Homo sapiens: one gene and its partner. The protein of the gene in region 1 purifies or fractionates together with the protein of each later gene. This does not show direct contact. Each region holds a gene or a part of one and is shown in the gene's direction. Other genes may lie near its edges.

What was found. The genes of interacting proteins can lie anywhere in the genome.
Region 2: the proteins of RBFOX1 (region 1) and RNF25 purify together in Homo sapiens (affinity purification with mass spectrometry; 2 studies listed by BioGRID and IntAct, with this or other methods). This does not show direct contact.

Annotation. Positions count from the first base shown.
Region 1 is NC_000016.10:7,710,288-7,714,712, forward strand, and holds the end of RBFOX1 (RNA binding protein fox-1 homolog 1), read left to right. Parts: exon of another isoform or gene 1-335; coding exon 336-458; 3' UTR 459-3,053; downstream 3,054-4,425. UniProt on the Homo sapiens protein: RNA-binding protein that regulates alternative splicing events by binding to 5'-UGCAUGU-3' elements. Regulates alternative splicing of tissue-specific exons and of differentially spliced exons during erythropoiesis.
Region 2 is NC_000002.12:218,665,198-218,670,018, reverse strand, and holds part of RNF25 (E3 ubiquitin-protein ligase RNF25), read left to right. Parts: intron 1-1,339; coding exon 1,340-1,414; intron 1,415-1,677; coding exon 1,678-1,780; intron 1,781-1,872; coding exon 1,873-1,940; intron 1,941-2,037; coding exon 2,038-2,107; intron 2,108-3,788; coding exon 3,789-3,860; intron 3,861-3,959; coding exon 3,960-4,103; intron 4,104-4,771; coding exon 4,772-4,821. UniProt on the Homo sapiens protein: E3 ubiquitin-protein ligase that plays a key role in the RNF14-RNF25 translation quality control pathway, a pathway that takes place when a ribosome has stalled during translation, and which promotes ubiquitination and degradation of translation factors on stalled ribosomes.

The DNA of each region.
Region 1 (4,425 bases):
AACTGGTCCAAATTCAACCTCAAGTGCAGATTATTCTGTTATAAAAAAATGAGACAGTGAAAATCCTTCCATTGTCCAGCTTATAATAGAGTCCTTTTAGCTAAGAGGACTGGCTGACAGAATTTGGTTTTGCAGGGAATTTCTTTAGGAGGAGCTATTGGGGAAGGTCAGGAATGGCCCTATCTTTAGTTCTCCAAGAATGACCTGGGATGGGTAGGGGGTGCCTCCATTTCGGTTGGTTTTGAGTGTCTATTTTTCACATTAGTCTTTTTGATGATCCACATGTTGCAAAAGGAAAATGTAAAAAACACACCCCTCAAATTGCTTTGTTTCAGAATGCTTTTGCACCTTTGACTGATGCCAAGACTAGGAGCCATGCTGATGATGTGGGTCTCGTTCTTTCTTCATTGCAGGCTAGTATATACCGAGGGGGATACAACCGTTTTGCTCCATACTAAATGACAAAACCATAAAAACCTTCCAATGTGGGGAGAAAGGAAGCTTTCCGAGGCCTGAGTATTGCAATACATGCAGTAGTACATCATTTTAGCAACTCTAAAAAAAAAAAAAATACAAATAAAAAGGAAAAAAAATTACATTTTTTATCTTATACCTCAGATATTTTGTTCTGTGTATTTTAATATTGTGGGTCTTTAATTTCTGAAGGTTCCGTAGTTTGGTTGCTGGCTGTAGGAGTTTTTGTGGTTGATCTAGACAGATGCTAGATAATGAATAAAAACTGGTTTAGGGCCATATCCAGAGTGCTATATTATGTAAATGAATTATATATGCTGAATATTAAGCTACTGGGGTTATCAGCTATTTGGGAAGAGTGTAAGTGACTACAGTAGTCATTTTTTTCTGCACCTGCATTATTTTATTTTGCGAAAGGGGAGGTTGGGAGGGGCTTAGGGGATTGGAACTGGGGTTTGGCTGAAAGAAAAAAAAAAAAATGTAACTGATGAATCTAAACGACCCACTGCACCAACAATCATTTATCAATGGTTCTAAGTTACTCATTGCCAGTTCAAGCCAAAGGTCATGTTGTTAAGGGGGTGCTTCTAGTAGCACTTGTGCATCTGAGTTGAATGAAGCTGTGCAAACCCACCCTTTAAACCATTCCACCCGGCAGTATTCAGCTTCTTAACCAGTCGCTATTTAGGAAAAAAAACCCACTAGTTAGGCCATCAACAAGCATTCTTTTTATATTTCTTCCAGTATAATAAATTATTGATATCACTGCTGACTTTTATATTATGGGAGGGAAAAAATAACATTAATAAAAAGGTGATAAAAAAGCACTGTTTCTATTTTTTTCTTTTTTTCCAAAAAAAGAAAGTAATAAAAACTTAAATTCTTTGTACCAGTTAAAAAAAATGTATAAAATTTACATCTGTGCAGTGGAGTTGTTAAGTTCTAGAAACAGTCTATGAAGCTTTAGTTTTAGCCTAGTAGAACAACTGTTAGAGACAGACGTATAATTTTTATGGAATTACATGATAATCATATTCGGATTTATAGAAGCATTTTACAAGTATTGCAATCATTGAGTAGAGATAATCATGGTATTTTCATCAGCTTGGTACTTTTTGAAACGTGACTGCGTTGTGTGAACAATCTGCAATTTTTCAGTCCGTGAGATCCTGCCCTTCCACCTCTTTCCCATACCCCCAAGGATTATCTCAAAATGATCTCTTTAGTTCTGTCTCCAAGGCCCAGGACACTTGTCAGAAGGATGCAAAAAAAGAAAAAAGTACATCCACCCTCTTAATCCCAAAAGAACAAAGTCTCCCCACCTTTCTCGGATGCAGGGCCAGAGTGACACAGCCGAAAAATTGCAGTTTGTCTGTACTTCTGTTTGAACTTTCCACGTTGTCCTGTTTACAAGTTAACTTAAGTTGGGGTATCCGTCACGGGTCTTCCTGTTTTGTATTTAAATAAAAACAACAGCAGCAGGCTGTCCCTGAGTAGTTTTGCTGCCATAGGTTAAGTCCTCATGTGTACAGTGCAGGCCCTGTGGCCCGCACTTCAGTAAGTTATCAACTCTCACCGCTGTGAACCTGCCAATCCGCTGTAACAACTCTGCTTTAAAACAAAACCAAACAAAACTTTAAAAAAAAATGTGTGATCCAGCTTTCTCTTGCCATCCTATGTGCATGCCGTAAGATCAGTTGGATATTAAACCATCAATAAAGTTTCACAAGATTTGAAAACAAAGTTTCTGTAGCTTCGATACCTAAGACAGACGATAGTGATCTTGAAAAGAGAAAAGGGGGAGGGGGGAGCTACTTATCAGCCAAAAGCATATAAAGTGTTCTTTTCACCAGACTTCTTTGGGTGGGTGAGGGGAGGGGCAAGAGGGTGTTTTATAGCATCACTAAGACATTCTCATTCCCCCACCTGGAAAACAGTGTTATGGCAATGGGTGCCTGGTTGATGTTCTTAAAGGAAACGAATTATTAAAACACTATGACATCCTCCAGAGGGAAGAAAGAGTAGGAGCAGGGGGCTATGGAGAATAAATTTCTCCCAATTGCCGCCTCAGATTTCAAAATCCAGAATTTGTATTGTGTTTCGAATCACAAACATAGAATTCTTACTGTGTTGGTTAAAGTAAAATTCATTTGCAGTTTTGATTTTCATCAATGAGCTGTACTTTCCCCCATGACTGTATGTAGTTTTAATAAAATCATTTAGAGTGAGTGAGTGCCAACCGATGTTGCAGAATCTTTTGTCTAGGCACTCCAAGATGCCAATAAGTCATTTTAAAATGTATGTCAGAGATGTAAACAAACATTTTGGATTTTTTTTAAACAGTATTTATTTGGAATGTTTTCATTTATCTAAATAACTATTGCTATTATGAATTATGGAAAATTAATATTATGTGTGGCATATAGTGACTTCTTAACACACACATCACGCAATCTGCAAACCCAGAAAATGTGTATATCTGTCTTTAGAAATTAGTGTTTATATCACTTACAGTGGTTTGTGAATAAAGAAAACTGGTTTGTAATATCAAAAAAATAAAAGCTTAGTCTGAAAAGGTACAAGTTGGTGTTCTGAGTTATTTGGCTTCCATGGGTTTTCTCTCTCAGTGGGTAGATTTGTTATCCACAGCTGTGATTGCACTTGGGCCCGCCCGGGGATGTGGGGTGGGTGTTGCCCAAGTGAGCAGGAGGCTGCCCTGGCCACCAGTAGACCAGATGCCTCCTGCAAGTTCCCTGCTTTTCTGGATTAAAATCTTTCCCTTCCTCACTCATTTTCCCAAAGAAGTCAGTGGAACTCACCCTGGCTGTTTAAGAAACTGAACTAAGCTTAGCTATCTCCTAGCATGGAAGTATCAAGTCTTCAGTTTAAAACAAAATACATCACTCATCTTAAATATGTTTGAGCTATTAATTACTTTTTGGGACACCTCGGATAAGATGAAAAAAATATAGTAAGTGCTAGAGTTCACATACATTGAGTGCTCATTAGGAGCCAAAAATCGTGTGTTCCTTATTTAAAAATCAGGGTTGAACTGTCCACCCCATTTAGTTACTTAATATCTTAATCCTATCTCATTATATCTTAATATTCCTATTAAGTTGGTATCACTGAAAGATTTTTAACATGTGCGTTCTAGAAACATATTCTGAGTGTGCACCCTGATTCTGTCAACTTGCTGGTGGCAATCCAGGATGAATTAAACCAAAGTGCTGTGCCTCAGTTTCCCCAACTGCACCTCAGGATCATCTCACTGACCTAATATTGTTATGCAGAAGAAAGCAATCTCAATAAAGTGCTTGCAGCAGTACTTCATAAACTGTAAGCTATTATCCACAGGTGAAGCAACTGAGACACAAAGATTCATTTCTCCAAGGTCACAGAGCAAGCAGGTGATCACCCTAGGATTCCAGAACGTGCACCCTTAACTGACGAGGCATGTTCTCACCTGACCAATAAGAACTTTATACATGAGCAGTTTAACCCTGTGTGCCACCTGCAGACTCTTTGTTCTGCAATCATTTTTTTTTCCACACTGCAGGTTGTCTTCACAGCATCTATCTTATTTCAGTATATTTAATCATCCCTTCTCTGTAAACTCCTTATATATGAAGACCATGCCGGTTATAAATCAACTTGTATTGGCCTATGTCAACTGATCCTTAAAGATAGGGTTACCCTTATTTTATGAGGACAGGAAGGATCCGATAGGTCATATGATTTGCCCAAAGCTGTATCTAGCAAGTGTTGAAAGAGGGCACAACATGAAGAACTGTCGGACCCTGAAGTCTGTGCCTGCTTTATTATCGATGGTGATGGTGGTAGTGGTGACATTAAATTTGGGATTCTTGTGCTCTCCTTACACAATATGTATGGATGTTAATTAAAACAAGTCGCTAGCTTTATCCTCACAGGTGGTGGGAGGGAGGATAA
Region 2 (4,821 bases), on another chromosome or scaffold:
CTGGTCTCGAACTCCTGGCCTCAAGTGATCCTCCCACCTCAGCCTCCCAAAGCGCTGGGATAACTTACAGTTTACCTGTTCAGGGGAACTTTTAAGATTCAGGGGAGACACCTTGAGCCATGGAGACAGCAACAATGAGTGCAGCAGCCTGTAGTACTGTGAGACTCCCACTCCCATGTCAGCCAGAACTACACTGTTATCTGTGAGGTGTGAAGCTTTATATTTTATATTTTGAAGTTTCTGCCTAAGACTTAACAACACTGACATAGGTCGTGCTGGGGCAGCCTTACTCTTAGAATGAAGAGGGAGCAGTGTGAGAAAGCAAAGTGTGCATTTTTCCATGTATCACTTGGTAGAGCTGTAGACACAAACTGATCACTCAGCTTCAATTTCATTACAACTGCTGTTTCTATGCTTAAGTATGTGTGTCCCTTGATTTACATCAGAACCATGGATCCTAACCTCAACAGGCTGATCTAGATCAACCAGACAGCCAGGTCATAAATACATCCAGAGTACTCTATTACCTCCTTCCTTCCCTCTTTCCTTCTAAGGGAGAAGGTTATATACAGACAGGAAAAAAAGAGGACGTAGACTAGCTACGATAGCCCAGATACTATTAGGTACTTTATGTAAACAAATCACCTTTTATCCTCACAATAACCCTAGAGAGTAGGTGTTATTATCTATATGTGACAGACAGGATAACTTAAGCTTACAGAGAGGTCACGTCCCAGATTGCATAGCTTGTAAGTGATTGGTACCTGTTAACTAACTCCGAGGCTGCTGGCTCTTCCATTACAACACAGCCTTTATACCACCCTAAATATGTTGTGTTGAGGTTGCTATCTCCTTTAAGAAGGCTTAGGGTGACTGGTGTTAAAACTGTATGTAGACAGTAGCCAAGGCACTGGGATCCACACTGGACAGTGACGTAGGGAAAGGTTGGAGTAATATTGGTAACGTTAATGCTAATGAATGAGTGCCATATCTCTAGACCAGAGATTCAGCCACTAAGGGGAATGAAACTTAAACAGGGAGTCAGGAAACCTGGCTCTGGGCCTAGTTCTACCTATGTTAAGCCTTGGTTAGTCATTTTACTTCTCTAGAATCCACTTCTTCATCTGTTGGCAGAAATGATGCCTAAAATTCTGATTTCCATGCCTTCTATTTGGCCAGTTGACAACTTAAGGTAACATATTCCTTGTTTTTAAGGAGTTTAGCAGGAGAATGCATTCTGGTAGATTGCCATTTTTCTACAAAGCCTGCCTTTATTGGCCTTAGCAGGCTTCCACAGGGAGAGCTGTAATGGTAAGTTAGTCTACTCCTGTCTCTCTAGGGTCCTTCCCTCTGAAGTTGAAGTATTGGAGTCCATCTATCTAGATGAACTACAGGTGATTAAAGGAAATGGCAGGTATGTATTCAACCAGTGGTGGGCAGGAGTCCCCCTAGTAATGAGGAGAGGTTCTATGCTGAATTTGGGTCTTAAGACATTGTGAGCCTTGATTCAGAGATAATATTTCTCTTGTGTAGACAAAAGCTATTCCTTTAATCCTACCCCAAAAGAAAGAGTCCAATGTGTACTTCCTTTGCCCACTTCACTGTCTCAGCCCCATCCTCCCCAGCCCCCAAGCCCCTACCCAGTCACATCTGCGTGTCCACTTGATCCACCTGCAGAACTTCACCATGGGAGATCTACATCACTTTGCATCCTGCCACTGCAGAGGACCAGGATTCACAGTATGTCTGCTTCACTCTGGTGCTTCAGGTCCCAGCAGAGGTGAAGCCCCTACTGTGTGGCAGCAAAGGGAGGAAGGGGAGAGTCCCTGGGGTGGACCGCTTCAGCAGTAACTTGTTATTTGCCCCCACTAGTATCCCCATGAGGTGCCACAGATCTCTATCCGAAATCCCCGAGGACTTTCAGATGAACAGATCCACACGTAAGTTGAACCTGTCAGAACAGGGAAAACTCAGCTACAGCTTTGCCCGGTGACAGAAATGGGCAGGTCTAATATTTGGTTTGCCCTCTTCCTCCAGGATCTTACAGGTGCTGGGCCACGTGGCCAAGGCTGGGCTGGGCACTGCCATGCTGTATGAACTCATTGAGGTAAGAGGTGCGCTAGTCTGAGATATGTTCTTTCCTTCAAGCTAGAGCAGTTTCTAGCTGTAAAAGGGAAACCATGGGCCTAGAATCTTAAACGGATCTGGAGTCATTAGGTAAGGCCTAAATTAATCCAGAGAAATGAGACTCTTCTATTTGAAAAACTTCCCAAAAGACAGTTCAGTAGCTTCTCCAAGTTGCCTATGCCAGCATCTTGACAGAAAATGACTTTTCCTCTTCACCTTGAATTTTTCTTGCATCAGTTTCAGTATATGTCTTGTTCTCTTGGCACTGGCAACTGAAAGTGGCAAAAGATACGCATCTTGCTTGGGGGCGTCTTAGCCATAAATGAACATTTGAAGGCTAGACTGCCATTGGACCTGACTAGAAAAAGTCATGGTTGGCCAGGCACGGTGGCGGGCATTTGTAATCCCAGTTACTTGGGAGGCTGAGGAAGGAGAATCGCTTGAACCCGGGAGGCGGAGATTGCAGGGAGCCAAGATCATGCACTGCACTCCAGCCTGGGCAACAGAGTGAGACTCCATCTCAAAAAAAAAAAAAAGAAAAAGTCATGGTTCCTTTACTGAAAGAGCTTATACACTGCTTGATGAAACAACCCACATGAAGCAACACCTGAAGCTCCAATATACACAGAAAACTTTTATTGTTTGAGATTAAAAATATAAAATTAAGTACAGTTTTATTTTCCCCTAGTTTGTTTATTTATTAATTTTAATTTTTTTTTTTTTTTTGAGACAGTCTTAGTCTGTCACCCAGGCTGGAGTGCAGTGGTGTGATCTCAGCTCACTGCAACCTCCGCCTCCCAGGTTCAAGTGATTCTCCTGCCTCAGCCTCCCAGATAGCTAGGATCACAGGCATGTGCCACCACACCCAGCTAATTTTATATTTTTAGTAGAGATGGGGTTTCTCCATGTTGGCCAGGCTGGTCTTGAACTCCTGACCTCAGGTTATCCACCTGCCTCAGCCTCCCAAAGTGCTGGGATTATAGGCATGAGCCACCACGCCCAGCCTCTCTTAGTTTAAATTTTTAAGAAAAATGTTCAGAATAGAATGAAGGTGGGTGGCTGAGAGTCAAAGAGAGTGGGTTTGATAGGCCACCGTAGCAGTCCTAGGTCAGGCCTCCACAATGCAGCCTTGGACTTTGTGGAATTCCAGAGTACACTATTAGCTATTCAAATAACAATTCAAATGCATAGTTCACAGCCCAACTCAATGCCTTGTGAATTCTCTGTCCATTTGGGTTGTCCATGCCTTGTCATGCTTTCTGAAAGCTGACTTAGAACAAACACATTGCCCCATGGGGGAGTGATATTGAAGGGGGCTAATCAAGAAAGGCCTCCCAGAAGATAAATTTTAATTGAACATTTTTTTTCTCAAGGTGTATTATTTTCATCTCCAAGATATATTAAAAGTGACTTAATGAAAGGAAAAACAATTAGGTTGAATTTTGAAACCAGGAAGATCAAATTTTGGGGGAGGGGCAGAGATGTGGAGAAGGATTGATTCCCAGCAGAGGGAGCGTCACCAAGCCAGAAATGCATAAACACAAGGTAACAAACTGGCCTGCTAGGAGCCAAGTCTAGCCAGTCACTCCTAGGAGTAGTAGACAGGCCTTGCTCACCGTTCTTCCCCCTACCCCCGTTTAATCAGTGTCTTCTCTCCTCAGAAAGGGAAGGAAATTCTCACAGATAACAACATCCCTCATGGCCAGTGTGTCATCTGCCTCTATGGTTTCCAGGTGGGTTTCTCTCTTGGGACCTGGCATTCTGTTTGGGACCAGCAGATGAGGGCTGTGAGAGAGCTCTGACTTAGTGCCCTACATCTGCCTTCCCTCTAGGAGAAGGAGGCCTTTACCAAAACACCCTGTTACCACTACTTCCACTGCCACTGCCTTGCTCGGTACATCCAGCACATGGAGCAAGAGCTGAAGGCACAAGGACAGGAGCAGGAACAGGAACGGCAGCATGCTACAACCAAACAGGTAGACCTCACTGCACCTGCACACTCATCTGACACCCTTAGGCACAGCCTTTCACAAACTTTTCCATCTCTCCACTCCAGTGGCTCTTCACTTTTTCAGGGTCATAGATACCCTTGAGATTAATGAACTCTTACCTCTGTCCAGAATAAAGGGCATCCTTTTTTTTTTTTTTTGAGATGGAGTCTCACTCTGCCACCCAGGCTGGAGTGCAGTAGCACAATCTTGGCTCACTGCAACCTCCGCCTCCTGGGTTCAAGCAATCCTTCTGCCTCAGCCTCCCGAGTAGCTGGGATTATAGGTGCGAGCCACCACGCCCAGCTGATTTTTGTATTTTCAGTAGAGACGGGGTTTCACCATGTTGGCCAGGCTGGTCTCAAACTCATGACCTCAAGTGATCCCGCCCGCCTCGGCCTCCCAAAGTGCTGGGATTACAGGCGCGAGCCACCGTGCCTGGCCAGGGCATCCTTATATACACTTACATATTGCATGCAGTTTCGGGGGGTTCCCAGATCTCTAGTTAGACAACCCGTGCTCTGTCCCAACTCACTGCTGAACCGGTGTCCCTGTGCCCTTTAGTCCCAGCCCTCTGCAGATTAGGTTGGCTGATGGGTCAGCACCAGGGGGCATCCTGGGCTGTGACACAGGCATATGATTTTTCTCTTTTTTAGAAGGCAGTCGGTGTGCAGTGTCCAGTGTGCAGAGAGCCCCTCGTGTATGA